Homo sapiens: one gene and its partners. The protein of the gene in region 1 interacts with the protein of each later gene in a biochemical or structural test. Each region holds a gene or a part of one and is shown on either strand. Other genes may lie near its edges.

Region 1 (7,455 bases):
TATAGGCATGCACTACCACGCTCAGCTAATTTTTGTATTTTTAGTAGAGACAGGGTTTAGCCATGTTAACCAGGCTGGTCTCGAACTCCTGACCTCAGGTGATCTGCCCGCCTCGATTACAGGCTGAGCCCCCGCACCTGGCCTATAGCCTGGGTTTATAAGTGGAAGGAGTCTGTTCACGCAAACGTTTCTTTCTATGGAATTGAGCTTTTTTGCTTGTGTTAGTAAGCGATGATAAATAAAACAGTATATTGTTTGTACTTGGAATTTCTGATTAAATGTGTCACAACTGTTGTCTTATATTAGAATTGGTTATTTCTACCTTGTTGCTGACAGTTATTTTCAATATGTTTACAATTTGGAGGTAAAAAAATGCTTTTGCCAAGTAAAATTTATTAGAGAAGAAAATCCTTTCAGCATGAAAATATATAATGATACCAAAAATTGATTGATCATCTTATTTTCATGTACTTCATTACTTAATTGCTCATAAAGATATAATTTACTGTATAATTAGAATAAAGTATTCTTTTTTTACTGTAATAAAGGGCAGATGATCTTGTGTTGCTCTTTTAGTGAGTTTTATTCATATTGAGATTTCATTTTACAAAAGTCATGTCAGTTTTTTTACACTTGTTTTAAACTGGCAGCAGCTTAGTTAAAAATAGCTGTTTCCAGTGAACATGAAGCTCCTACAAAATCTGTATTTTTAAAAATTCACTCTATCATGCATATGATGTGGACACATTTTGCTTTACAATATGTAAAAGTCTATTATAAAGTAAAATATATTAGGTCATTTTATGAGTTTGCTGGAGCTGCTGTAACAAAGTACTACAAACTGAGTCGTTTCAACGACAGAAATACATTGTTTCCCACTTCTTGAGACAAGCACACTTGAAGTCTGAGACCAAGGTGCCAGTAGGGCCACGAGCTCTCTGAAGGTATGAGACAGGATCTATTCGAGGCTGCCTTCTTAGCTCTTGTGCTTTGTTGGGAATCTTTGGGCTTCCTTGGCTTGTAGATACATCACCTTGGTCTCTGCCTTCATGCTCACATGACATTCTCCCTGTGTGTGTCTCAGTGTCCAAATTTCCCCATTTTGTAAGGACCCCAGTCATATAGGATTGGGCAAGCCCATCCTACTCCAGTATGATTTTATCTTAAATAATTACCATCTGTAATGCCCCTATTTCCAAATAAAGTTGCATTCTGAGCTATTGTAATTAGGACTTTAATATGAATTTTGGGAGGGGCACAGTTCAATCCATAACAGTCGTTATTTGCATAAAAGGATTAACCACAGTATTCTATATTTGATTCAACATCTAAGAGGACAGTTCAGCCTATAAATAACATATAACTTTCTATTGCATCAAAAAGATATACTTTCTCCTTTTTTAATGAGTTGGTTAGTATATTGCTAAGTTCTGAATGTGTCCCTCTAAAATACGTATGTTGAAGCTTGACTGCCAATGTGACAGTATTAAGAAATGGGGCCTTTAGGAGGTGACTAAGTCATGAGGGCACTCATGATTAAGTCATGAATGGGATTAGTGCTCTCTTAAAAGAAGTTGAAGGGGTCACCCTGTCCCCTTCCACCGTGTGAGGGTTTAGCAACAAGGCACCATCTTTGAAGCAAAGGGTGGGCCCTAGCCAGGCACAAATCTGTTAGTGCCTTCATCTTGGACTGCTAGCCTCCCAAACTGTGAGAAATAAATTCTATTATTTATAAATTACCCCGTCTAAGATATTTTGTTAGTAGCCTGAACAGACTAAGTCAGAAATATACCTATTATAAATTGTGTTTTCTGATTTTTTTAAATGATAAAATTAATTTGGGTAGGCTGGGTTTTATGATACAGTCTGGTATATGTTTATTTGTCACACTCAGATTCCTTAACTGGGAAAATTTCATCATGTTTGTGTTCTGTGTCTTTTTGTTTTACCTAATTTCCTCTTTCAGAATGCTGTATTTTATATGGATGCTTTGCTCAGGAGACCATTACATAAGTCTTTTCATGCATTTGTTGATTTGGTGAGATGTTAAACTTACTAAGTATTGGATTAAATATCTAATTAGTTATGACTTTATCTCAGTGAGATTTTCAGTTTCTTAATTGCCTCTAAGCAGTCAACTCTCTGCTGCCTTTAAAATCTTGGCTGTGGCTTGTTGCTTGACCCAGGATTTCTACACCTGTACCCTTTCACATTCTTAGCCAGTAGTCTCTAATAGGCTGCAAGGGGCCTATATATTTTATAAAATTATAAGTAACATTTTATACATGCATTTTTCTGAGGGAGAATGCCCTTAGCCTGTTACCAGATTCTTAAATAAATTCCTAATTGCTGCCCCTTCCTCCCCTCGAAAAGTAAAAATAGGGTGGGGCGTGGTGGCTCACTCCTGTAATCCCAACACTTTGGGAGGCCAAGGCGGGCGGATCACTTGAGGTCAGGAGTTCAAAACCGGCTTTGCCAGTGCAGTGAAACCTCGTCTCTACTAAAAATACAAAAAGATTAGCTGGGCGAGGTGGCAGGTGCCTGTAATCCCACCTACCCAGGAGGCTGAGGCAGGAGAATTGCCTGAACCCAGGAGGCCGAGGTTGCAGTGAGTCAAGATGGTGCCACTGCACTCCAGCCTGGGCAACAGAGTGAGATTCTGTTTCAAATAAATAAATAAATAAATTCATCATGTCATCAGGAGAAAGTGGATGTTTCTTACAATAATCACTCCAACAGTTCTGTTACTGGGCTTTAGGATGCCTGATCAAAATGCAGCCTTCTCTGCATTAATTTAGCAGCAATCAAATGTAAAAAACCTTTCCAGAGGTGTCAGGATTGAATGAGGTAATGCTTGTGAGAGTGCCATGCTTGCATAATAAGGATCACTTGAACCATGTAAAACAAAATGTTGTTAATGCGCTTGAAGTCAACGATACGGGCCTGTGGGGTATATGAAAAGAAAGTGGTGACTGAAAATGATTTCTCTGTAGACTGAGAGTCCTCGTGATTGAAGTTTGTGTTGTTGAAACAGCTATATTTTTGCAAGCTTTTTTCCCCATAGTGATTCTTTAATATTTTAAATTGAGTTTATATGAATTTTGGTTTCAGTCTACTTAGAAAATTTTAAAGTAACCTGCAAATTAATTAGAAGTACCCTAGAAAATGGCAAGACTTGGTTGGGGCAAATGGTGACTGTTTTGAGACAGATGTCATTGTGGAAGGGAGAGGTTTAATATTCAGGGGAAGGGAGCTGAAGCTTGCAGAGCAGATTCCATTCTGCCAAGCCTCTTGTGCTGCATACAGAGTCTCAGGGCATCAAGCAACCCGAGGGCTTTCTTCAGAGGAGTAGCTTGAGGCAGCGGCGAGAGAAGGGCAGGACACACTGACAAATGAATAATGAGAATTAGGTGAGGAGATGGAGTTTAAGAACTGCTTCAAACTTTAAGGTGGATACCTGATGGGGCTTTCTAGAGATGAGCAATTCTTCTCAATTTAAGGCCAGATAGGGGAGATGCTAAGTAGGTAAGAAGTCAGTGGATTTTTTGGCCTCCTTTTTTCTCTTTTTGTTCTTTTAATCCTTCGTACCCTTGTCCTGTGTTCTTTTAGGTAATGTTCAGTGAGGTGTAGCCACAAGAGGGGACATAGGAGAGGCTCAAGAAAACAGAGTTTATTATACTCACATGTCTTAGAATGACAATCACTGTACAGGAGGATAGGAGGGGGGACACGTGGGGTGGAGGTGACAGCTCTGAGAGCAGGATCAGCTAAGCAGGTGGGAAACAGGTGGGAGCAGAGAGAGCAAGGACTGTGGGCAAGTGCCTTTACTAGTGATCTCAGTGCAGTTCACAGCTCAGTGCAGTTCACAGTGCGTTGCATTGGTGCATTGGTAGGTCGTGGTCAGAAGAAGACAGAGAGGTGAACTTGTGGTAGGGGCCAACCTTATCAAACTTGTGCACCTGGTTACCTGGGTGGGGTGTTCACAGTTAGCGTATGTGGGAATGAATGTTGAGGCAGCAAGAGGCAGCAGGAGACAACATGTGAAGTTTTGAAACTTTGTAGTACAACCCTTCTCAGTGTTTTTGGTTTAGAATTTATTGTTTCCATAATCACTTAAGGAGCCTAAAAGCTTAAGAATGATGTACATGGTATCCGATGGATAATAAAGACTAAAGAGAGCTATAACTATACTTATTAAAATGCCATGATTGTGAGACCCTGCCAAGTCTTTTGCATTCTACCAACAAAATATTTTCATGCTATACTAAATCATTAGCTGATGACAAATGCTTCAGGAAATAATTTCACTATTTATAAAGGTTTTACATTTAGTACAACTTCTAAATGCCAAATATGATGTTGTAGTTGCTCTACCCTAATCTCCCTCCGCCATCCCCTGGGTCAAATTGTATATAGTAGTAATGAATATGGAGAAGCTGTCTGTAATACTCGTGAAGAACCCACAGCTCCATGGAGGTTTACTTGGATACTTAGGACACTGAAGGACCTCTAGGCAGTGTTTTCTGCCTTTTTTTGAATTATGATATATATAAAAAATAGAAATATCTTTTTTATAATTCAAACTAACCTTTCCCCATAGATACTAATGGAAGCAGTTTTATAATGCTGAGAAACATCTCAATATCAAGCTATGTATTAGTCTGTTCTCATGTTGCTAATAAAGGCATACCCGAGACTGGGTAATTTATAAAGGAAAGAGGTGTAATTGACTCACAGTTCTGCATGGCTAGGGAGGGCTCAGGAAACTTACAGTCATGGCAGAAGGGGGATCAAAAATGTCCTTCACATGACGGCAGCAAGGAGAAGTACAGAGCAAAGTGGGGTAAAAGCCCCTTATAAAACCGTCAGCTCTCGTGAGAATTCACTCACTATCACGAGAACAGTGTGGCGGTAACCACCCCTATGATTCAATTACCTCCCACCAGGTCCCTCCCATGACACATGGGGATTGTGGGAACTACAGTTTAAGATGAGATTTGGGTGGGGACACAGCCAAACCGTATCACAGAATAATGCTTGAAAGAAACATAAAGCAGATAGCCTATGCTTTTAAACGTACAGGAAATCGGCTGGGTGCGGTGGCTCATGCCTGCAATCCCAGCACTTTGGGAGGTCGAGGCAGGCAGATCACTTGAGGAGTTTGAGACCAGCTTGGCCAACATGGCAAAACCTCGTCTCTACTAAAAATGGGAAAATTAGCCAGGCTTGGTGATGCACAGCTGTATTTCTGGCTACTCAGGAGGCTGAGGCAGGAGAATTGCTTGCACCTGGGAGGCGGAGGCTACAGTGAGCCAAGATCACACCGTTGCACTCCAGCCTGGGCGACAGAGCGAGACTGTCTCAAAAACAAAACAAAACAAAACAAAAAGTACAGGAAATAATGTCCACAGTGAATGACTCCAGTGAGGAAAGGAGAGAAGGGGAGTCAGGACAGTTATTGTCCATAACAGTGATGGCATCCTGCAGGGGGCATTGTGAAATCCCCTGCCTGCCAGTAGAGGAAGTTCCTTGGTTTTACAATCTGGCTCTGCAATCTGGGAAGAACTCTTGTTCTTTCTTATATATATTTGGCCAGGTCTAAGGAGGGTTAGAGGAAATCTGCCCTCTTTGGGAACGGCATAACTTTTCAGTCAACTTCCTGTTTATTTAAATTTGGGGATTGTTTTACAGTCATAGGGTTTTCACTATCCATGGTAGATTTGAGTAATGAAATTTCTTCATAAACTTAGTAGGCTTCTGGCCAAGTGCGGTAGCTCATGCCTGTAATCCCCGCACTTTGGGAGGCCGAGGTGGGCGGGTCACCTGAGGCCAGGGGTTCAAGACCAGCCTGGACAACATGGTGAAGCCGCTTCTCTACTAAAACTACAAAAATTAGCCAGGCATGGTGGCCTACGCCTGTAGTCCCAGCTACTCGGGAGGCTGAAGCTTGAACCTGGGAGAGTTGCTTGAACCTGGGAGGCAGAGGTTGCAGTGAGCCAGATTGCACCACTGCACTCCAGCCTGAGCAGTAGAGCAAGTCACTGTCTCAAAAAAACAAAAACCAAAAAAAAAAAACCAGAAAAACTTCAACTTAATAGGCTTCTGATGTGTTTTCTTGTGAGTTTCATTTGCCAATTTCTATGATGGAAATTCTTTTTTAGACCTAATTTTCATCCAGTAGACTTGGTTGTGTTACTCTGAACTTAACAAGAGGGCCTGATACTTTGGCTTAACCAAGAAGTCTTAATGGTACTTTGTTGCTCAAAGTCTTTTTCATTTATATTTCCCGTTATTTGCTTCAGGGACTCAGGATGACCCTGGATCGGTTCTGCCATCTGTAACATATGGTTTTCAAGGTTGCCAAAGGGAAAGAATATGTTTGAACAAGCATGGGAGATGTTCATAAGCCAGGCCTGGAAGAGGAATATGGTAGACAGAATGCTACGATTGTTGGTGACTCTTGCTCTTGTGTACTCTCCTCCCCTTTGAGTGTGGGTGCAATGTTCAATTTGAAAAGATGTTATTCCTGAGACTTTTAACTTTGTAAGACAAAAGGGAGATTATATGATTGGACTTAATCTAATCTCATGAGCCCTTTAAAAGCAGGATATTTTCTCTGGCTGGTAGTGGAAGGAAAAATCAGAGAGATTGGAAGTATGAGCAGGACTGGACATGCTGTTGTTGGTTTAAAGAGGGAGGGGCCATGTGAGTAGTAATGCAGGCAGCCTCTAGGAGCAGAAATCAGCTCTTTGGTGACCATCAGCAGGGAAAATAGGGATCTTAGACCCACAGCCTTGAAGAATCTGAGAGGAAGGGAATTCTTCCCCCAAGCTTCCAGATAAGAGCCCAGTCTAGCCAACGCCTTCATTTTGGCCTTGTGAGGCCCTCAACAGGGAGCTCACTTAAGCAGGCCCAGACTTCTAATTTATAGAATTGTAAGATAATAAATGGGTATTGTTTTAAGCTGCTAAATTTGTGGTAATTTGTTATACAACAGCTGAAAATGAAGAGAAGGAATAGTTCCTTCTGTTTATGTTTGGTTGGCTGGAACTTGTAACATGGCCCCTCTGTGGTACACCTAAGAGAAATGGAAGAAGGCAAGTGTAGCCTAGCTATGTGCCCAGGATGTAAAAGTGGGTTTTTGGTTAAAAAGCTAGCAGTTTTGCTATTACTGGTGCCTATAATTAATTAATTGTGTGTCTGTATATTAATCTATTTGTGAGCTTGTAAGTGTATGTATATGTGCATATGTCCATATGTACATACACAACATACATATGCACATATGAATTTTAAGTCTAGTTTGCTGAATAAGTCTTTTCTTAATACATAAGGCTCAGTATGTTCCATGTGCCTTTTGAAACTGTCGTCCAGGCTGGGGTATAATGGGGCGATCACAGCTCACTACAGCCTCAATCCTCTGAGCCCAAGCAATCCTCCCACCTCAGCCTCCAG
Region 2 (7,455 bases), on another chromosome or scaffold:
TTACTCCAAGGTTAGGAAACCTAAGAATAATAATATTTCCAAAACCTCCAGCAGCCGTCTTTTATGCCAAATAATGGTTTGTTTTTACCAAAAGGCCCTAAAACATTTATTTTGGCATTAATGTGCATTCTAAGGAGAAAGAATATTAAAATATTGTCTAAGCTATTCTATTTTCATTAGATTTAGACTATGTGAGCAATTCAGAAAAAAAATGTTGGAATATTGACTCTTTCTGTAAAGCTAACATAAATGGATGTCTAATCTCTTGGAATGTCATTATCTTTCCTACTATAAGCTTTACAGTAATACTTAACATATTAATATTTAAGAGCTAACAAACCTTCTTAAGTCATTTGACTTTTAAAATTAATTTGGCCTTCATTTTGGAGTGATACCAAGGTTTGTATTGTGCTGTACAGTGTTCACTTAAAATCTTCACACTTTAAAAATGCCTATTGTATTCAGAAGCTGTGCTTGGAAAATATCAATGTGTTCTCTTCATCTTCAATAATCCCAGCTCCCTGAATTTCAGTGCATTCTGCATATTCATCTACCTGAAGAATCTTCTAAAATCATGTTTTTTCTTTGTTTGTTTGCTTGTTTGTTTTTTGAGACAGGGTCTCACTCTGTTGCCCAGGCTGGAGTGCAGTGGCATGATCTCGGCTCACTGCAACCTCCACCTCCTGGGTTCAAGTGGTTCTCCTGCCTCGGCCTCCCAAGTAGCTGGAATTATAGGTGTGTGCCACCACGCCTTGCTAATTTTTGTATTTTTAGTAGAGACAGGGTTTCATCATGTTGGCCAGGCTGGTCTTGAACTCCTGACCTCAGGTGATTCGCCTGCCTCAGCCTCCCAAAGTGCTGGGATTACAGGCGTGAGCCACCGCGCCCAGCCCTAAAATCATTTTTTATATTAAAGCAAAGTGTAACCCTGTTTTTCACCAAGATTAAGTTTGTACTCCTCAACCTGTCATTTGTCCAGTGTTGATCTCCTTTAAGGAGATCTGGTGTTTCCTCAGTGCCTTCCCAAGCACCATGCTTTTTTCAGCTTCATCATACTGTTGCTTTTTACACCTTCTTCCTCCAAGACAGCTAGAGTGCTGCTTCTCTAATCTGAGCCTGTCAGTCCCACCGAGGTCCTACTCAGGTCTTCTTCCTTCATAAGACTCTGCCCCAACCACTCCAGCTCACCTTTATCTCTACCTTCTCTTCATTTCTCTAGAACTTACTCTGTATCACAAGGTGCATACTTCTTTTTTGCTTTTATTTTTTGAGACATGGTCTTGTTCTGTCACCCAGGCTGGAGTGCAGTGGCATGATCACAGCTCACTGTAATTGAACTCCCTGGAACTCCCGGGCTCAATTGATCCTCCTGCCTCAGCCTCCTGAGTAGCTGGGACTACAGGCGCACACGACTATGCCCAGATAATTTTTTTCGTATTTTTTTGTAGATAGGGGGCTTCCTCATGTTGCCCTGCTGATCTCAGACTCCTGGGTTCATGGTTTCCACCTGCCTCAGGCTCCCAAAGTATTGGGATTACAGGCGTGAGCCACTGCTCGCAGCCAAGACGCATACTTCTTATGTGCTGGTTTTGTTGTTGTCTAAATGCTCATATGTAGGTGTTTTTCTTGGAAAGGGGTGGTGGAAGTGACCTTAGCAGGACTTGGTCTTTATGTACACAAAGTTCCTAATTTCAAGTCTCTACTTGCCCTGGCTTTACTTTAAAAAGTAAATTTTAAACAGACATTTTAGTCAGCATACAGTGTTGAGGATTAGCAATCACTTAATTTTCTTGGCCTTTGCTGAAGTGCCATGAGATACCCAACATGAAATTTTGTCTTTCATACTATTAGCACATACCAAAAGATTGCAAGTAAAAATACAATGAAAATAGTCTCATACAATGGATCCCCTTAGGGACCCACGTGTTCACTAATGCAGCCTCAAGACTCTGTCTTTATGTCGATAGGATTCTAAGCTTAAATCAGTCATGATGTTATGACATTATCAGTGTTACAGTCACCTGGGCAGCTTTTACAAATACTACTGTCTGGGCTCTAGCCCCCTGGATATTCTGATATAATTAGATTGTGATGCTCATTTCTGAGCAAAGTGTATTTAGGCCTTTCTATGATAGATTAGGGGATTGCTTTTTTTTGGCTTGCAGATTTTATCCAAAATAACCATGTTTCCAGAATTTTGGTGCTGTTGTCTTTTATGGGGCTACTAAGTAGTTTTCTTGAAACTGTCAGGCTGAACCAAGTGCTAATACTCTTGTAGCACTTTGAGTATAGTGCCTTCATATCATATGGAATTCTGCTCAGGTTCTGTGTCTGGATGCCGCACTCCTTGAGGAAAAGGCCTGTGTGTCTTAGTAATATTTGCAGTCTTAGTGCTTAGTGTAGTGTTTTACTCATACTTGAAGAAAATGTGATTATTAAATGAATGACAGCAAGGGAAAGACTAACCTAGATTACAAAGTTGATAAACATGCAGTTATTATGTTTGAAAATAAGAGATATTTTTCCGTAAATTTTTGTTGTTGTTTTTTGAGCAGAGTCTTGTTCTGTCACTGAGGCTGGAGTGCAGTGGTATGATCTCCGTGCACTGCAACCTCCGCCTCCTGGGTTCAAGTGATTCTCGTGCCTCAGCTTCCTGAGTAGCTGGGACTACAGGCGCACACCAACATGCCCAGCTAATTTTTGTATTTTTAGTAGAGATGGGGCTTCACCATGTTGGCCAGGCTGATCTGAACTCGTGAACTCAAGTGATCCACCTGCCTTGGCCTCCCAAAGTGCTGGGATTATAGGCGTGAGCCACCAAGCCCAGCCCTATAAAACTTATTTCATATACATACATGCATACATTATATATATATATATATATATATATATTTTTTTTTTTTTTTTTCTTTGAGATGGAGTTTCATTCTTGTTGCCCAGGCTAGAGTGCAATGGCACGATCTCGGCTCACTGCAACCTCCCCTTCCCAAGTTCAAGTGATTTTCCCGCATCAGCCTCCCAAGTAGCTGGGATTACAGGCATGCGCCATCATACCTAGCTAATTTTGTATTTTTAGTAGAGACAGGGTTTCTCCATGTTGGTCAGGCTGGTCTTGAACTCCCGACCTCAGGTGATCCGCCCGCCTTGGCCTCCCAAAGTGCTGGGATTACAGGCATAAGTCACTGCACCTGGCCTATTTCCTATGTTTTTGAGAATTGTTATCTGACTGAACTGCTGATATAAAAGATGTATATTACACATTATTTAGATTTGTTATTGACAAATCCTATTGGAAATAACTGTTAACCACATTATTAAGGTTCTTCTGAAATGCCAATTTGAAATGTCTATGATAAATGTTACTTATTATTTCTATAAGTACTATTAATTTGTTTCAAAATTACTTTTTTTTTTTTTCCAAGATGGAGTCTTGCTCTGTCACCCAAGTTGGAGTGCAGTGGTGCAATCTTGACTCACTACAGCCTCCGCCTCCTGGGTTCAAGGAGTTCTCCTGCCTCAGCCTCCTGAGTAGCTGGGACCACAGGCGCCCCCCACCACACCTAGCTAATTTTTCCTTATTTTTAGTAGAGACAGGGTTTCACCATGTTGGCCAGGCTGGTCTCAAACTCCTGACCTTGTGATCCACCCACCTCAGCTTCCCAAAGTGCTGAGATTATAGGCGTGAGCCACCACGCCTGGCCTTCAAAATTACCTGTTTAAAATAGAAAATAATTTCATTATTATTTCTTCTGTTGCATTGATTTATTTAAAACACTTTCTAAAAAGTTCTTACCCTTAGATAACAGTTAATATGTTTTTTAGGAGTGTACCCATTTTTAGCATTACTCAGTTTTGAAAAGTATTTGTACAGCAAGTGTTTGATTAAATTGCAATTTGATGTCTTTGGAATAGTGGTTCAGTGTAGCAGGTGAGCTCTGTGACTAGTTTGCTGCATCTACCAGTTTAAGCAGCTTGTGTGATGGTTAGCAAGTTATAAACAGGTACATATTTTTTTCCTGGAAACAATTTATTAAGAGATAAAAGATGTCTCTCAGCTTTGTGTACAATTCATTGTTCTTAGTCTTTCTCCAGTTTACACACACATACACAAAGACTGTCACAGGAGAAGGACAAGCTGTCAGTCTGACATACATGCATTAAATTCACAATCTCAATATTTTACAGCCCATCTCAGGCTTCAATAAAGTGAATGATTCATTTCATAATTATATCCTAAATAGAAGATGGAGTAAAGAAAAGGTCAACATATGGGAAATGGAGGATAACTCTAAAAACAGAAGTTATGGACCTCTACGTAAAAGATGGGGAGGTGAGGTGGCGCCATGGATTCCTAACTCTTAAAATTAAAGCTTTTGCTCTTTTCCATATTACATGCTAGCATGGGAGTAAGGATGAATTGCTTTTATCTGTCTAGTGGTAAGATTACTTTCAGGCTTTTCAAGTAGCATAATTTGAGTCAGATTAGGACTCAAATCATGCATTTTATAAATAGCAAGGCCATATCACTGCACCTGGTTTTCCTCCAAGTTGTCCTTATGAGATTCTTTGTCTACCTAATTTTTTCTTACAACATAAGTCATAATACTATATATAATACTCAATATAAGTCATAATACTATAGGATGATATTCTGAGATCTTTATTACAGAATATGAAATATCCTCTCTTTTCTATAAAACTGCGTAAAGGACTAATCGTAGTGAAATGATAATGGCTACCACTTACTGGAAGCTTATTCTGCCAGTCACAACATTAAGCCAGAGGTTTTTAAACTTCATTGTTTTATGGTGACCTTATTATCTCATTAAGTTGTTTTTGTTTTTGTTTTTGTTTTTGAGAGGGAGAGTTTCGCTCTTGTTGCCCAAGCTGGAGTGCAATGGTGCGATCTCGGCTCACTGCAACCTCTGCCTCCCGGGTTCAAGCAGTTCTCCTGCCTCAGCCTCCCAAGTAGCTGGGATTACAGGCATGTGGCACCACGCCCAGCTAATTTTGTATTTTTAGTAGAGACGGGGTTTCTCCATGTTGGTCAGGCTGGTCTTGAGCTCCTGACCTCAGGTGATCTGCCCACCTCGGCCTTCCAAAGTCCTGGGATTACAGGTGTGAGCCACTGTGCCTGGCCTCGTTAAGTTTTTCACAACACCCCTAGGCCACAAACAATACTTAATAGTTCTGTTTATTAAATAGTTAGGTCCAAAAAATATTTGTGTCCCAACAGCTTTTGTAGCTGTTCAAAAAAAAAAATGCAGAAAAAATAGAACATTTATTTTCTTCATAAGTAACCACAATTTACTAATGAGATGTGTGTGCTTGTTGAGCACTGAGCACTAAATAGCTTTTCTTTTTCTTTCTTTTTTTTTTTTTTTAAGATGGAGTTTTACTCTTGTCACCCAGGTTGGAGTGCAATGGCACGGTCTCGGCTCACTGCAACCTCTGCCTACGGGTTCAAGCAATTCTCCTGCCTCAGCCTCTCAAGTAGCTGGGATTGCAGGCACCCGCTACCACACCTGGCTAATGTTTGTATTTTTAGTAGAGACGGGGTTTCACCATGTTGGCCAGGCTGGTCTCGAACTCCTGACCTCAGGTGATCTGCCCACCATGGCCTTCCAAAGTGCTGGGATTACGGGCGTGAGCCACTGCTCCCAGCCTGCATAGCTTTTCAAACCTTGGAACAGAGTACACTGCCGTCCTCATTTCCTGTTCCACATTGATTTTCAAGTGACACTTGCTTTTATCACAGCAACCAGCAAAAACCCGGTTTCACTAATATATATCATCCAAGGAATGCACTGCAATCTAATATGACAACTCAAGCACCTCAGGTTAATAGTTTGGCTGGTTTCCAGCATGTGTTGAGAATCTCAGTGTTTCCTTCTGTTTAAAATATGCAGCTTCCCTGGGAGTTTGCTGTAGTGCCGTGGGGCATCTGAGCACACAGTTCAGGAGATGTGGCATTTGACACACTTTATTTCATTCAGTTCAGATTGTGCTTTTATCCACATTTCAGAGATTTGGAAACTGAGGATTGGAAAGATAACTGCCCCAATGACATAGTCCTACCATTTAATTTTTTTTTACTGTAATTATTGTTTGTGCTGTTGTGAGGCTATTGTATTACCATATATTGTGTGGCTATTATTTTCAGGGGTGGGGAATGAAGTGTAAAAATAAGGGAAGGCGTTAAGGTTAAGAGTGTAATTGGTAGCATTTTCTAATGAGGGAACTGTACACTTGTGTTTTTCCCTACAAACTATTAACATATTAATATATTAGAGGAGAAAGTATGGTTTAATTTACAGTAAAGTCATTAAAAACAAAGTTTCTTTCCTGGGCCAAGTTAAATGTCAGGTTCTAGACTTTTGGATAAATATAGTAGGTGGTAATGCCAAACAGTGTGTGTAGTTTGTTTTTTTTTTTTAATTGCCAAACGCTGTCAACATGATTGCCCTTTAGATAAGTTGCAGTGTCCTGTCTCTTTTAAAGAAAAATTTGCAAGTTGAGGGAAGAAGTGACTTTTTATAGTTGACTTTTTCAGCAGAGAAATCATGAAATTTAGACTTGTTATATATCACTTTATGTTAGGGTTGCAAAAATTCATTTTCTTTTTATAAATACCTTTGGAAGGTGCATATTTATTTTCTTTCTTTTTTTATGTGCCCCTGTAGTCTGAGGAATGTACGTATTTAATAGAAAGTAACTTAAATGTCAACTCTTTAAAAAGAAAATCAACCAAACTTTTTTATTCTGGGTTGGTAGTAGGATTGACCTAGGGTCAAACCAGTAGTTAGTTCTTAAGTGCTTTCATTTCTTCACCACTTAACTTTGCTATGAGGAAATAAAAAGGAAAGGCAGAACTTCCACTCTCACTGAATAGTAAAAACTCTGTGGCTTTTTATTACATCATCTCAGGTCTATCAGATGTTCTAACTTGTCCTATAAAATATACGTAACTCAGGACTATAACGGGAGCTTCTGACCATAGTGGAGTAACAGGAACTAGATTTACCCTCCTACCTTAAGTAACAACAACAAAATGAACAAAATACATGGAATGATTTGCAGACCTTGAACAAAAGGCAGCACAAGATGCTGACCCCTGAGAGAAGGGAAACAAATGAGGTGGGTTTTATGAATGCTCCAGCTTACTGCCTGGAGAGCTTCCAGGCCACAGCAGCAGAAGAGTCACTCAAGCAAAGCTTGACAGGATTCCTGAGTAGGGAATATGGGGAGGCCAAGGCAGCCAGAATCTCAGGGCTGTGTACTAGAGATGAGACAGTTGCACAAAGAGCTCCAGAGATCTGTAGAGGACTCCGTTTGAGACTTCAGCTCAGTGTTGATCGGTGCCAGTGTGTAAGGAAACCATTTGAGGCAGGGAAAGAATCACCAAAAAGGAGTAGGCAGAAAAATTTCTGGAGCTCACACAGGGCTGGGAATAGT
Region 3 (7,455 bases), on another chromosome or scaffold:
AGTATAAGGATAAAAATTCTTTATAGTACTAGCTCATAAAGAGTGTTCTATGGAATAGTAGTGGATGTCATTTAATAACTATAAATTCAAAATAAGCATTGTAAATATCAATACCATTCAATTTTTTTTTGTTTTTTAAACAAGTTGTAAGCCTACCCTATGGTAAATGGATATGGTAACACAGCATAATTTCCTCAAAAAATTACTTTTGTGATATACTTTTAAAGGATTATATGAATATATACATAATTATAGATGAATGTGATGCTGTGTGTCATTGTATCACCAAATCTCTGTCCAATCTGTTAACAGACTCTTAAATAAACCATTTTTCTCAAGTTGTTACTGGCCTGTATACTGTATTACTTGTTTTTCAGCTTTCCTTGGTACATTCTTAAATTTCTGCATTCCGCCACCATGCTATCACCCTAATGGATCAACCTTTTTTGTTTTGCTCCATTCTCTCTGTTGTAAATCTGAAATTGATAATTTGTTTGTCTCAGAAAATATTATTTTTCAAGTTCTAGCGTATTGCCTACAAAAACCAAAAGAATTAAGTGTCTGACACTGTGAGGTTCAGCAAAACTGTGCATATATTTTGCTACCTGATTTTTTGCCAGCAAATGAGTGTTTTCTATTATAAATATAGTATATATTGCTTAAAAATTTGGAACAGAAAAGAAATTACTCCAATTAGGATGCCACCTAAAGTATAAGCATGTAGCTGTACTTTGAGAACACTAAATTGCATGCAGGTTTGTAGTGACTAGGTCTTCTTGCCTTTACTGAAGGAGCAGAATGAAGTCACAGATAATGGATAACCAAATCCATTTTGTGGTAAGAACTTCCTTACTTTCAATGTCTTGAAGAGATGAAGTATGTTACCAAAGGAGATTGGGTTTTTTAATATTACAGATGAGTGACATAGATTGTTTGGGAGTAAGTTTTTATATGTAAGTTTTTATGTTTTTAAACACATACTGACAACTTATGACAAACCTTTGGAAAGTTTTAAAACTCTGTTGAAAGGTTGTGCAAGCTGCTGATGGAATCTGTGAGCCTTTCTTGTTTCTTATCACGTTTTTTGGCAGAGCACATTTCTTCCTTCCCACCAACAGGTTTTGCCCTTTTTTTTCCCATTAAGATTCCTCCTGAGATTGGCTGTCTTGAAAATCTGACATCTCTGGATGTCAGTTACAACTTGGAACTAAGATCCTTTCCCAATGAAATGGGGAAATTAAGCAAAATATGGGATCTTCCTTTGGATGAACTGCATCTTAACTTTGATTTTAAACATATAGGATGTAAAGCCAAAGACATCATAAGGTTAGATAATTTTTTTCTATTTGGTTTTACTAAATTTATTTCAGATTTTCTACTCTCTGTGACTTTGATGGACATATATTGTTACTATTTAGGGAAAAATAAATAGTAATATTTGGCATTAATATGCTGTGTGTCATTTGCCTTTCATTTAATGAATGTGTTTCTGTGGTGCCACTGTAGAGATTTCTCATTCTTCTTAGCCAGACTAATGTTGAGAGCGGCTTCTCCTCCTTCTGTTTCTTTTCAGTGGAGTAGACTCTAAAAGAAAATAAGTATTGCTATTTGGTCTCTGGTTACCAATTACACAATCTAAAGAAATACAGCACAGTATAATAACTTCTCACACTGTATTTCATATAGCAACTAGTTAACATATGCCTCTTACATCTTAAAGCATTATAGCTACTGACATCATGTGAAATTACTAACTTCTATTTTGCCCATTAGGATGAGTAATCTACTCACCTTGATCAGTTTTGAAAGCACCAAAACTTCTCAAGTATCACTGTTTCTGGTCTTTACACTTTAAGCACTTTAAATATCTTTGGTAATGGATTTTATCCTCCTTTTTGTTCCCTTTCAGCACATCGGTCTTATTACTTTCTCATAAAATCCTTTGCTCCCTTTTCCACAGTTACTGTATTAACGTTGCAGACCTCAGCTCTGTCATCACCTCTCAACTTGACTGTAATATCCACCAAGGCAGAGACCATGGCTGTGTTCACTCACTATTCAAATCTTGGCACCCAACACAGTGCCTGGCATACAATTAATAGTTGTTTAATTACCAGTGATTTATACTTACTCATTCTCTTCTGCCTAAAATCTCTTAAATTTATATTTAACTTCATCTGTTTTTATGAGGAAGGATTTTGTTTTCTGAACTCCTGAGCTTGATTTCATTTTAAAGGAGTTTGTTATCTTTTGTGCTAATTGTGGCTACCCTTCATCCTACCCAATTATTTTTCTCTCTTGAAACTGGAAAAGATGGTCATATAAAAATTGGTTCAGTTCTTACTAAACATTTAGTAGAACTAGCTTTCAGTGTATTATACTGTATTATCTAACTAAATATTTTTAATATTTAATATTTAATTTAATATATAACTAAATATTTTTAAACATGTTTAACATTTTCAGAAAAGACAGAAAGACCTAGAGCAGATTAGAAATTGTAGGCATCATTTGCTTTTTGAAGAAAGACATTTTTTCAAATAGTGGTGCATTCTTAAGAAATAAATCAAGAAAGGTAATGTTGCTTTTTGGTCATATCATCAGGAATGTTGGTCAGATTCTTATTAGTTACAGGAATGAATTGATCACTACTCTGATGTAAAATTCACTTATGATTTAGTCTTTTTCTCTAATTTGAAACTGTGGCAACATTTTAACATATTTCAAAATATATCTTTCTCTATCCATTATATTTTTGATAACACTTTGACTCTACTATTAGTTTAAAGGTGGTTTTTTAGCTACCTAAACACTTCTATTTCATTCAGGTTTTACATTAAGATCATTAGGAATGAAAGCTAACATCTGCTGATAGTATAATAGTTTATATTTATTTATGATGTTATGTGATCTCACTATCCATATATACTATTATATGCATATGTGATATACATGAATATATAGCTATACATCATATATACCATATATGAATATATACACACACATATATAATGTAACTAATATGACCCTATTATCAAGCTTTAACAGTATACATATATCTCTACCTTGTTTCTATGTCATATGGACTTTGTGAAATTTTGAACTTTATAATTTATAGGGTTTTTCTTTTCTTTTCTTTTCTTTTTTTTTTTTTTTTTGAGACTGAGTTTCACTCTTGTCACCCAGGCTGGAGTGCAGTGGCCTGATCTTGGCTCACTGCAACCTCTGCCTCTTGGCTTCAGGCGATTCTCCTGCCTCAACCTCCCAAGTAGCTGGAATTACAGGCACCTGCCACTGTTCCCGGCTACTTTTTGGATTTTTAATAGAGACGGGGTTTCACTATATTGGCCAGGCTGGTCTCAAACTCCTGACCTCATGATCCGCCCACCTCGGCCTCCCAAAATGCAGGGATTACAGGTGCGAGCCACCGCACCTGGCGTATAATTTGTAGGGTTTTTCATACTATTTAAAGACATTAGAATATGTATACATGTATGTATATGTGTGTATATATAGAGGTATATATATATTGCATATCGTATTCTAATTAGTATTGCAAACATATTTTGGCCTTTTGATTATTTCTGGTGATAGTGTAACATGTTTTCTTTGGTGATTTTACCAAACATTATCAACTACCCTAAAATCTCTAGCAAAATATATGCATTAACAGTACTCTGAAAGACATGTACATTATTAGTTATATGAGATATGCACTCTTCTGGATACTATATTTTAGAATAGTGTGACATGTAAAAGAACTCACCTAAATCTCAAGTATACTTTTAAGCAGTTTATTATTTTATTTTTATCTTTCAAATACTAGGTTTCTTCAACAGCGATTAAAAAAGGCTGTGCCTTATAACCGAATGAAACTTATGATTGTGGGAAATACTGGGAGTGGTAAAACCACCTTATTGCAGCAATTAATGAAAACCAAGAAATCAGATCTTGGAATGCAAAGTGCCACAGTTGGCATAGATGTGAAAGACTGGCCTATCCAAATAAGAGACAAAAGAAAGAGAGATCTCGTCCTAAATGTGTGGGATTTTGCAGGTATTTCTTTCTATAGAATTTTAAAATTCACTTTTACCATTTGTTTGGAACAGGGATTCAAAAACTGAGCTTTCTGTTCTAATATCCAGAAACCTGGTAGACTGTATGGAATTATTCCAAAGCCCTTCATTTCTCCTAATTTTACCCTTGCCTCCAGAATGGAGAAGAACATGGAGGGATATGTTAGGAACAATTTGGTGCTAGGTACTTTGATCGGTTGCTGACAAATATGCTAAAAGTGGTCAATCCTAGTAAAAACCCAGAATAGTTCTCTAAACATGGTCTGTTGTTTTTCTCTTATTAGTATGCTAAATAATAAATAGTATTATTCTCCCAGATTTTTTTTTAAAAAAGGATTCTTGCCTGTCGTTTGAAAGATTAAAAAAATTTGTCTCTAATCTTTATTTAGGTCGTGAGGAATTCTATAGTACTCATCCCCATTTTATGACGCAGCGAGCATTGTACCTTGCTGTCTATGACCTCAGCAAGGGACAGGCTGAAGTTGATGCCATGAAGCCTTGGCTCTTCAATATAAAGGTGATTTGTTCTGATCATTTGAAAATAGAAAATAATTCATGTGTCTGTGTGCGTGTGTGTGTGTGTGTGTAAGTTAATTTATTTTGGGCAAACAATTGCTTCAGTCTCTTTAAATACTTTCTTAAAAGAAGCACTAAAATTTTGAATTGGGAAACTTTCCGAGTAATGAAGTCATAACATGAAAATTGTATGTTCCATGTTGGTGAATGTTATTGGTAACCTGAAACTCTTTTATGCTGTAAAACTTGAAAATATATATGTTCAACTGTTTTTTAATTATATTATTTCTTAAATGAAATCTAAATTTTTCTAATTTAAAATAAGCTATATTAAAGAAAAGCAATCTATATATATATATCTCATCAACTTTGTACTCAGGGGCCATTTAGTGTGAAATTCTTCAGATTGTATCCTTTAAGTGGTCCCAGATTATTATGCTGTTACATCTGGAATCTCCCTTTTGTTGCTTTTCTATCTTTTCCTTTGTTGTCTTGTTGTCAGCTATTCCTTCAAACACTATGGCTTTTTAGAATGGAGACTAAACTGCTGCTTGCATGATGCTGCAATGAACTCTTCTGTGCATAAAGTCCTTAAAAAGCTTGTGTCAGGACATTTAACCATGTAATTGGCTGCATACATGCTTGTTTTGTAATTTGGGTATTTTTTAATGTTTCTTTTATTAACTTTTTTACAGCTAGCCAACGTGAGCAAATAGTACAGTGGCAGTCATATTTGCTTGAGTGGCTTTTATTCTTTCATTGTAGACTCCAAATTGGTTGACTTTAAAACGAATTTAGAAGATTAAATTCACAGATAAGGAAGAGAAAATATAAACTATATGACGTTAATTTGATATAATTTGTGGGTTTATGAAATGCTTATTTTATTTAGGAGTGAATAACTCATCTTAAGGCATGAAGATGGGAAAGGAAAACTATACCACTACCGTTATATATGCCACCTAAAAGGGTGAAGAATTGGGTTAAGAAAGGCCAAAAATGACTTTTTAAAATGTCGTAAGGTTACATTTTTTTCTTAGGTTTAAGGAAAAAAGGACAGTTGTTCTTTTCTTCTTCTGAAGTCTGCTAGTTTCTCTTTTCCATTCAAGTGAATGTCACGGAAAGCAAATATCAACAGGAATGTGAGCAGGCCCAGTTTGAAAGCAAACACAAGAGGGTTTTGTGTCTTTCCCTCCAGGCTCGCGCTTCTTCTTCCCCTGTGATTCTCGTTGGCACACATTTGGATGTTTCTGATGAGAAGCAACGCAAAGCCTGCATGAGTAAAATCACCAAGGAACTCCTGAATAAGCGAGGGTTCCCTGCCATACGAGATTACCACTTTGTGAATGCCACCGAGGAATCTGATGCTTTGGCAAAACTTCGGAAAACCATCATAAACGAGAGCCTTAATTTCAAGGTAACATGGTAGGCTGGTAGAGAAATGTAATTTATTGATTCTCAACTGCCTAGAAATGTCAGAAATTTTGAGAAGTGAGCAACTCACTTAAAATTGTGGGTTTTCTTTCCTTGTTGCTGTTAGCATTATTAAAGTCCTTTCCATTTTAAAATTATTTATGCCAGACTTCATTTCTAATTCATAGAAATGGGAACAAAAAATAATTAGAGGAACCTGAGAGAAACTAAGAGACCGTTTCTGGGATACTGAGAAAATGTTTCTGAGAGAGAATCTGAGAAAATGTTTTTGATGCCTTTTCTGATTCAACTTCTTATAGTGGTGATTCAATCACAAGGGTAAAGGTGAATACTGAGGTCTTGGGATCATCTTTCTTCTATTATTCTTTAACTGTTATTTTTCCATTTCCTCTTTTCTTTTGGAATTCCTGTTTTATGGACATCTTGATCTTTTGTGCCACTCATTCATGAATTTTGTCACTGTGATTCCCATTCCAATTTTTTTCCCTCCGTATTGTGAGGCAGCTGTTTTATTTAGTCATGAAGACCACTAACTTGGTTTTCAGCAGTGTCTCACTAATTACTTAGTTCATACAAAATGGGCTTTTTATTTTAGGAATTATGTTTTAAATGTTTAAAGTTATCTTCTCGTAAGCCAAATTTTTATAAAATGTAAATAAATCAGTTATCAGAGAGAACACTTTTTTTTTTAAATACTTGGCAGAAAAAAGAAATCTTCACTGGGTACTACAGGGAGTGTGGTGTAAACTGTACTGAAAAATACCCTTGATAGTTCCATATGACAAACATAATGATGAATTTCACTTAGTCTGTCTTGGCTTAGCTCAATAGCACTAATGATCAAGATACTGGCTGATAAATAGAGTCCTATTTGGCCTGGGCAGTCCCAGCATAATTATGTAATAGTGTCCCACTATATTCTCAAAAGCATTCCAATTTGGATGATAAATTATATAGTCACCTTGGTTATAACTCCATGCTGGCCAGTTAGCTTAGTTCTGTTCCATTTATATAGATTATGTGTGCTTCACTCCAAAACCTAATGAGCCATTTGTAAAAGTGATGGCTTTTGCGGTGCCCAGGGAGAGAATTTGTATGTTTGTATCCTTCAACACACATTTATTACAGTTATTAAAAGGTTTTATTGATGATAGATGGTAATGTCATGTAAAAATGACATATTATTTATTTGTAGACTTTCCTATTCTCTTGTTGGACATGTAATTAGAAACTAATATGACTTAAAGAAAAACAAATACACAAAATTTATTCATCCAATTAATCTCTTAATCCAGGTGTTTTTTTTTTCTGAGACTATACCCATACTTCAATAACTTTGTTGTTACTGAGAATATTTTGAGTTTCCCTTTTTGTCATTGTTGTCAGAGAATGTATCATATCTTTAAAAAGACTTGTTGGAGGATGAGTT
Region 4 (8,200 bases), about 110 Mb from region 1:
CTCCCCCTTGCTAGCTGAATACCAGCTACAGGGTCTCCTTTCTGTTCTTCAAAGGCACCAAATTCTTTGCTACCCCGGGGCCTTTGCACCTTTCCCTTGGCCTGGAACTCTCCCGCCCCTGGCAAGTTACACAGCTTCTCATCCCTTGGTTCTCATCTCAGATGCCACCTCCTCCTGGAGACCTCTGACCTCCCTGGGGAGAGCAGCCCCACTCCCCTCCCTGACGTTCACCACATTTTCCAGTTGTCTTCTGAGTTTCTCCCTCTGCAGTGCAGAGTCTTGGTCTTTTCCACCATAGAATCCCCAGTGCTGAGACATCGTGCACCCTCCACAAATGTTTGCTAAATGACTGAATGAATTGGCCTCAGTTTTCCCTTCTGTAAAAGGGAAGGGGGTGAAGAAATAGTATAGACCCAGACAAGTTCTAGCAGCATCCCAGGCAGCTGCAAGGCTACCTCCATTGCAGAGTTGACAGCAGGATCCTCCTGAGCACCCAGAAGCCCGGGTGGGCCTGGGGCAGCCCTGATGCATTTTCCTGTGAAGCATTTTCTGTTGGGGATTGGCTCCTGGGAAGCCCCAGGAGACAGAATGGCTGTTACTATGCTCACCAGTCTGGGGACTGAGCCCTGTTGGAGAGGTCAGGAGCCCTTGAGGGAGCTGGCAGGCTGAGACAGTGGAACCCACTGAGCCTCAGTTTCCCTGGCCTTCTCACTAGCTTTCAGAGGATCATGAATGCTTTTCTGCCTACTCCTTCACATCAACCTAAGCCCCCTCCCCTGCCCTGGGCCTGCATCTGGACACCCTGCACATCCTCCTGTGGGGACAACGGCCAAGGGCATTGGGGTGGAGAGGGCAGCCAGAGGGCCCAGGCCTCCTGGGGCACGGTCCAAACCTTGCTCCACCACTCAACAAGCAAGTACTCGATGAAATCTGCTGTGGTCAGGGATGGCCCCTGCGTCATGGGCTCCAGGAAGGCAGGGGCTGGGCATGCAGGTCCCCAAGCCTAATTGGCTATCAGCGCCCCCTCCCGCATGTTTACAAAAGCACCTTTCCACCCATGAACTCGGTGGAGCCCACAGTCACCTTCTCAGGAAGGCAGGGCAGCGGCTGTCAGCGTTTCCATTCCGCAGATGGGGAAATGGAGGCCCACCCACCCACACGTCCCTGTGCCTGGTGCAGGACCCGGCTGTCAGAGGATGTGCAGCGTCGAGATTAGGAATTGGGCTTTGGAGTCTAACAGCTGCTGCCCTTTCTGAATGTGTGACCTTGGGCAAGGCATCTAACCTCCAGGGTCTCAGTTTCCTCATCTGTAGGATGGGCATCATGGTACCTGCCTCTTGGGAGCTCCTGTGAGCCTATGAAGGACTCAGCATAGGGGGATGCATGGGATGGGCTCAGTAGATGCGGGCTGAAATCACCAGTTGGTCCCCTCCCTACCCCAAGCCTGAAGCACGCAGCCTGGCATGGGGCAGGAGTTCAGCCAACATTCAAAGGACGAGAGGTAGGAATATGGTTTCTCCATTCTAAACTGCTGGATATCCCTGACTGCTGGCCCTTGGGGAAGGGGCCCGTGGTGTGTCTCTTGCCTGTGTCTCTGCAGCTCCGGGGGTCATGTGATCAGAAGGGGGGCTCTGCAGGAGCCATTGGAGAGACAGATGCCTTCCCCTCTGCTGACCAGATGGGCACGGCCGCCCCCACGGTGGCCTTCCAACGTCCCACACACACATGGCTCCAGTCAGGCCCTCTCCCTCTCACCTCTAGGGCTGGCATGGGTTTCCCAGGACATTTGAGGGGCAGGAACAACCACCCAGTCCCACTGTCCATGTTAGAGATGGGGACACTGAGGCTCAGAGAGGGCAAGTGACTTGCCTGAGGTTTTGCAGCAGAACCTGGCTTGGACAGAACTGCTGTACCTCTGCGGACAAGGGCCCCTGCCTCCCTCTCCCATGTGCCAGTCACTTTTTTGGCCCTGAAGGTCATTGGAAGAAAGCAAGAGTTTCTGAAGAAGATGGGGGGGAGATGAAAGACGGGGTCAGTGTAAACTCTCTCACTTCATCCCCCAGTCTGCCCAGCCCCCCAACCCACCTCCAGTACCTGGAGAGCTCCTATCTTTCTTCTCTCTCCTCAGCACCAGAAAAACTATTTCTGCCTCCCTTTGGGGGTTTGTGGGGAGCCTGCGGGTCACGACCCTGCCTGCCCCGCTAAACCCACGACCCTTTGTCTTTGCGGTTGTTCCTCTCTCCGCCACCTAGGCCTCTCAGCGCCTTGTGGGATCAGAGGCGGGAGGGGGATTAGGTTCTGCAAATGGCTCCCCCCTCCCGCCATCCCTGTCTTAGTCATCTCTGCCCTCTGCCGCCTCTCCCTCCAACACGATTCCTCTGGCCAGGCCAAGGGGAGGGCGACACTGACAGGCGCCCCCCACCCAGGGGCCGTGGCGAAGCAAGGGGCCGGCTGCTCAGAAAAGGATAAGAAGTGGTTTCTCCTCCCCTCTTCCCTTCCTCATCCTGCAGCCCGCGCCTCCCCCCTCGCCGCGCTGCGCACGGATGGCGGCGGGAGCCGCAGAGGTGTGTGTGTGCTGGCGGGAGGCCGTGCCCGGTCCTCGATGCCCGCGGGACTACGTCCTCTTCTAGGGACTGGGATGCGGGGGCTGACCTCTGCCACGGCCCAGGAATTCCCATGGGGGTAGGGGGATGTCCCCCATTGAGCCCGGTGTGGGGGACGCTGCCCCCGGGTGCTGCCCGCTCCAAGGGACTCCCGGAGCCCAACGGAGACGCTGAGTAATGCGGGCTCTCTCCATGCCCATGTTGGGGGCGGGGGGCAGCTCTTTGCCCGGGGCTTCTGGCAGAGCGTTGTCTGCCCTAAAGGATGGGACGGAGGAGGGGGCGTGATTCGGTAGCCGGAGGCTTGACGACGTTTGCAGACTAGCGGGGGGCGCTGCTGCCCCGAGGGGCTCTCGTGGTGGGGGGAGGGCCTCCTCGCTCCGGCTGGGGGTGGGGGGCGCGCCGGCCGCGGGTGCAGCGTCGGGGGCTGCGAGGTCGCCGCGCCGTCAGTGCCCCGGGCGGGGACTCCAGGGATCCCGGGGGTCGGGGGTCGGCGCCTGGGGGCGCGCCGCGCCTACCTGCCTACGAAATTCTCGAGCACCGAGCTCTTGCCGGCGCTCTGGCCGCCCACCACAGCGATCTGCGGCAGGTCGAGGTCCGCGTTCTGGCCGATGGCAGAGAAGGCGTCTTGCAGCCGGTTGACCAGCGGGATGAGATCTTCCATGCCGCGGTTGCCCATGGCTGCGGCGGGCCCCGCAGGCTGCGATCCGGCTGCCGCTAGCGCTCCCGGCTCCGACTCCGGCTCCGCCGCTGCAGCCGCGCGCCCAGACTGCCTGCGCCGCGGGGCCCCCGCCCCTCGGGGATCGGAGCGAGCACCGCTCCCGGACGCCGCTAGGGGGAGCCCGCGGCGCTGCGGGCCGGCCGCCGTGCGCAGGCGCCGTCCGGGGCATCATGGGTGTCGTAGTTTTCACCTTCTGCGGCTTTTGGGGTGCTTTAGCAGTGTCTGGGGTGCGCGGATGCTGCGCAGAATATATTTGTCAATGGGTTGGGTCTCACTCCTAGTACCAGGCCTCTTGGAGAGTGGTCTGGATGTTTCACTCCATCTTACCGATGAGGAAACAGGCCTGGAGAGCAGATGGGCTTCCTCTGAGGTCACAGCCTCCTGACCTCAGAGGTCAGAACTCCGAGATGAGTTCCCCTTCATCTCGCTGGCTTCTATCCCTAGATCCTGACTCTGATCTCCAACATGTCCTCTTCTGCCTTTGGTCCTCAGTTTCCTTGTTTCTAGAAGGAGAAAGTTGGAACATGAATTCAACAAATATTTACTAGGTACCTGCTAGAAGCCAGGCCCTGTCCTAGGCACTGAAGATTCAGCAACGAATAAGACAGCCAAGGCCTCTGCCCTCATAGATCTTGCATCAAGCTGGGGAGACAGACAGTAAATAAGTAAGCAGATAAATGAAATAGTAAAAATGAAAATAATTCATAGTAAGAGGGATGGAGGAAATAAACAGGGTGAAAAAAGGTATCTTTGTGGGTGTGGAAAGTTCACATTGGCTTGGCAGGAGTCGGGGGTGTTCTCTGCAGAAGTGACATTTGAGAAGAGACCAAAATGATGAGAAGGAGCCAGCAGCAAGCAGATCAGGGGAAGAGCATGCCAGGCTGAATGACCAGCAAGTGCAGAGGCCCTGACACCTGGAGGGCCCTTCTTGGGAGAGTTGGAAGCTCTTGTCCTAGAGAGTGGAAGTCTTTGCTCCAACCCATCAGGATGGTGGTAAAACAGCGTAAAACAGTGGGATTCAAATCCAGGGCTCCTACAATCCTACCCTGCGTACCCTTTCACACAGACAGACCATGGGGCCCTGAGCCCAGCCGTCCATCTCTGCATTTAAGAAACCTAATTAGTATTCACGGTGGAGGCTAGGAAGGGAAGGCTAGCCTACACTGTGCTCATGGGGAGTCGGTGAGTCATTTCCCTGCGCTGTGAACAGTGTGGGGGCACTGCTGACAAAGTGGTCTGTGAATTGGAGACTGTTCACTTACTCATCCATTTAATGCGTATTTGTTGAGCCAGGTACTATGCTAGACTCCAGAGATAAAGCAGTGAGCAAAACGGACAAAGTCCTTACCCACATGTGGCTGACAATTCAGTGGAAAAAGACAGACAATATGCAAATAGGGCAATAACGATGGCCCTGTTAGATGGCGTGCCCTGCAGAGCAAGAAAGCAGGGGCGGGGTAGGGTGGTGTTGCTATTGTGAAGATGGTGATCAGAGAGTGACCCTTGTGGGGAGGAATCTTCGAGGCAGGCATGGGGAACAAGCAGGCCCTCTCCCTGGTAGCACCAGAGAGTGGATTAGGAGTCTAATCTGGGCCTTAAACAAGCTGCGTGACCCAGGTCCCTCCACGTCTCTGAACCTCAGTTAACTAATCTGGATAATGGGGATAATAATAGATCAAATGCCTGTGTAGGGCACAGCCCAGGCCTAGTGCTCAGGGGGCCCTTATTAAGCTGCAGCTGTGAGGATGCCAATGATAACAGCTCACCAGACAGCTGGAGCATCAGTGCCACACAACTTGCATGGAACCTGGCAGCTGTTCCATGCCAACCTGTTATTATGCTCTGAGGACAAGAGAAGGCAGAGATGGAAGCCTGGATGACTGGCACCAGGAGGGGGTGCAGTTTATAGATGTTTGCCTAGAGGGCATCATGGCTGGGCTTTTAATATTATTTATTTACTTATTTATTTTATTTATTTTTGAGACGGAGTCTCACTCTGTCGCCAGGCTGGAGTGCAGTGGCATGATCTCAGCTCACTGCAACCTCTGCCTCCTGGGTTCAAGCGATTCTCCTGCCTCAGCCTCCCGAGTAGCTGGGACTACAGGCACGTGCCACCACTCCTAGCTAATTTTTGTATTTTTTGTTTGTTTGTTTGTTTTTTGAGACGGAATCTCGCTCTGTTACCCAGGCTAGAGTGCAGTGGTGCGATCTTGGCTCACTGCAACCTCCACCTCCTGGGTTCAAGCAATTCTCCTGCCTCAGCCTCCCAAGTAGCTGGGACTACAGGCTCGTGCCACCACGCCCGGCTAATGTTTTGTATTTTTAGTAGAGATAGGGTTTCACCGTGTTAGCCAGGATGGTTTCCATCTCCTGACCTTGTGATCTGCCTGCCTCTGCCTCCCAAAGTGCTGGGATTACAGGTGTGAACCACTGCGCCCGGCCAATTTTTGTATTTTTAGTAGAGATAGGGTTTCACCATGTCGGCCGGGATGGTCTCGATCTCTTGACCTTGTGATCCTCCTGCCTCAGCCTCCCAAAGTGTTGGGATTACGGGAATGAGCCACTGTGCCCAGCCTATTTATTTATTTATTTGAGACGTAGTCTCGCTCTGTCTCCCAGGCTGGAGTGCAGTGTCGTGATCTCAGCTCACTGCAACCTCCGCCTCCCAAGTTCAGGTGATTCTCCTGCCTCAGCCTCCAAAGTAGCTGGGACTACAGGCATGCACCACCACGCCCAGCTAATTTTTTGTATTTCTTTCTTTTTTTTTTTTTGAGACAGAGTCTTGCTCTGTCGCTCAGGTTAGAGTGCAGTGGTGTGATCTCAGCTCACTGCAACCTCTCCCTCCCTGGTTCAAGGAATTCTCCTGCCTCAGCCTCCTGAGTAGCTGGGATTACAGGTGCTCGCCACTGTGCCCAGCTAATTTTTGTATTTTTAGTAGAGACGGGGTTTCATCATCTTGGCCAGGCTGGTCTCAAACTCCTGACCTCATGATCTGTCCGCCTCAGCCTCCCAAAATGCTGGGATTATAGCTGTGAGCCACCATGCCCAGCCAGCTTTTATTATTTTTACTTTTTCCCCCCTAATTACAATATTGAAACTTATTGTAAAACCAGACTTTACACAAGTATTTGAAAACCTCTGGTCATCCTCCCACCTAGAGATAACCACTATAGCTTAGGGATCGTTCTCTGGCTTTGTTTTTCATATATGCACATATTCATTTTGTTCCATTTTGTTTTTACAGAAATGGGATTATACTAAGTATCCTATACTGCTGTATCACTGATGCCAGGCCAGCAGCCTGGCATCACATGGAGTTGGTTGAAAAGAAGAATCTCAGGGCCAGGTGCAGTGGCCCACACCTGTAATCCCAGCACTTTAGGAGGCCAAGGCGGGTGGATCACTTGAGGCCAGGAGTTGGAGACCAGCCTGTCCAACATGGCGAAACACCATCTCTACTAAATATACAAAAATTAGCTGGGCATGGTAGCCCGCACCTGTAATCCCAGGTACTCGAGAGGCTGAGGTGGGAGAATTGCTTGAACCTGGGAGGCAGGGGTGGTGGTTGCATCGAGCCGAGATCACACCATGCACTCCAGCCTGGGTGACAGAGCAAGACTCCATCTCAAAAAAAAAAAAAAAAAGAAAGAAAGAAATGGCTTCTTTACTCTCTCTTGAGCTCCCAAAGCTTTTTTGTTTTTGTTTTTTTGTTTGTTTTTAGAGATAAGATAAACCTTGCTCAGCTGCCCAGACTGGAGTGCAGTAGCACAATCGCAGCTCCCTGTAGCCTCAAACTCCTGGGCTCAAGTAGGCTTCCTGCCTCAGCCACCCAAATAGCTGAAACTACAAGTGCACACCACCATGCCCAGTTAATTAAAACAATTTTTTTTTGTACAGACGGGATCTTGCTTTGTTGCCCAGGTTGGTTTTGAACTCCTGGTTTCAAGTGATCCTACTGTTTTGGCCTCCCAAAGTGCTGGCACTATAGGTGTGAGCCACCATACATGGCTGAGCTCCCAAAGTTTTGACCACCAACTGTGCTGGGCAGAATTTTTTTTTTTTGAGACAGAGTCTTGTTCCAGCTCCAAGCTGGAGTGCAGTGGCATGATCTCTGCTTACTGCAACCTCTGCCTCCTGGGCTCAAGCAATTCTCCTGCTTCAGCCTCCTGAGTAGCTGGGATTACAGGTGCCCACCATTATGCCCAGCTAATTTTTGTATTTTTAGTACAGACAGGGTTTCACCATGTTGGCCAGGCTGGTCTTGAACTCCTGACCTCAGGTGATCCACTCACCTCGGCCTCCCAAAGTGCTGGGATTACAGGCGTGAGCCACCGTGCCCAGCCGAGAAAGAAGTTTTATTAGCCTCCTTTGACAGATGAGAAAACTGAGGCACAGAGAGGTTAGTAAAGAACATGTCTGAGGTCACATAGCCAAGAAATGATGGAGTCAAGATGTAGACGGTTGTCAGTGTGACTCAGAGCTTCCATATTTACATCCTACACTATGCCAGCTCTGGTAATCGATGGTTTTCTCCCAGAGATGCTGTGTGGTGAATACATATTTTTAGTGCACAAAAAATAAAACCCTTTTGTTTTTTTGAGATGGAGTCTCGCTCTGTCGCCAGGCTGGAGTGCAGTGGCACGATCTCAGCTCACTGCAACCTCCGCCTCCTGGGTTCAAGCGATTCCCCTGCCTCAGCCTCCCAAGTAGCTGGAACGACAGGCACTCACCACCACACCTGACTAATTTTTTGTATTTTAGTAGAGACGGGGTTTCATCATGCTGGTCAGGATGGTGTCGATCTCCTGACCTCGTGATCTGCCCGCCTCGGCCTCCCAAAGTGCTGGGATTACAGGCATGAGCCACCGTGCCTGGCCAA

What was found.
Region 2: the proteins of SH3GL2 (region 1) and SYNJ1 form a complex in vitro, tested with the Homo sapiens proteins (2 studies listed by BioGRID and IntAct, with this or other methods).
Region 3: of the proteins of SH3GL2 (region 1) and LRRK2, one has a biochemical effect on the other in vitro, tested with the Homo sapiens proteins (2 studies listed by BioGRID and IntAct).
Region 4: the proteins of SH3GL2 (region 1) and DNM1 form a complex in vitro, tested with the Homo sapiens proteins (2 studies listed by BioGRID and IntAct, with this or other methods).

Annotation. Positions count from the first base shown.
Region 1 is NC_000009.12:17,581,837-17,589,291, forward strand, and holds part of SH3GL2 (endophilin-A1), read left to right. Parts: intron 1-7,455. UniProt on the Homo sapiens protein: Implicated in synaptic vesicle endocytosis. May recruit other proteins to membranes with high curvature. Required for BDNF-dependent dendrite outgrowth.
Region 2 is NC_000021.9:32,717,643-32,725,097, reverse strand, and holds part of SYNJ1 (synaptojanin-1), read left to right. Parts: intron 1-7,455. UniProt on the Homo sapiens protein: Phosphatase that acts on various phosphoinositides, including phosphatidylinositol 4-phosphate, phosphatidylinositol (4,5)-bisphosphate and phosphatidylinositol (3,4,5)-trisphosphate. Has a role in clathrin-mediated endocytosis.
Region 3 is NC_000012.12:40,304,641-40,312,095, forward strand, and holds part of LRRK2 (leucine-rich repeat serine/threonine-protein kinase 2), read left to right. Parts: intron 1-1,144; coding exon 1,145-1,326; intron 1,327-3,826; coding exon 3,827-4,056; intron 4,057-4,465; coding exon 4,466-4,593; intron 4,594-5,790; coding exon 5,791-6,009; intron 6,010-7,455. UniProt on the Homo sapiens protein: Serine/threonine-protein kinase which phosphorylates a broad range of proteins involved in multiple processes such as neuronal plasticity, innate immunity, autophagy, and vesicle trafficking.
Region 4 is NC_000009.12:128,198,550-128,206,749, reverse strand, and holds the start of DNM1 (dynamin-1), read right to left. Parts: upstream 3,372-8,200; 5' UTR 3,280-3,371; coding exon 3,119-3,279; intron 2,565-3,118; exon of another isoform or gene 2,528-2,564; intron 1-2,527. UniProt on the Homo sapiens protein: Catalyzes the hydrolysis of GTP and utilizes this energy to mediate vesicle scission and participates in many forms of endocytosis, such as clathrin-mediated endocytosis or synaptic vesicle endocytosis as well as rapid endocytosis (RE).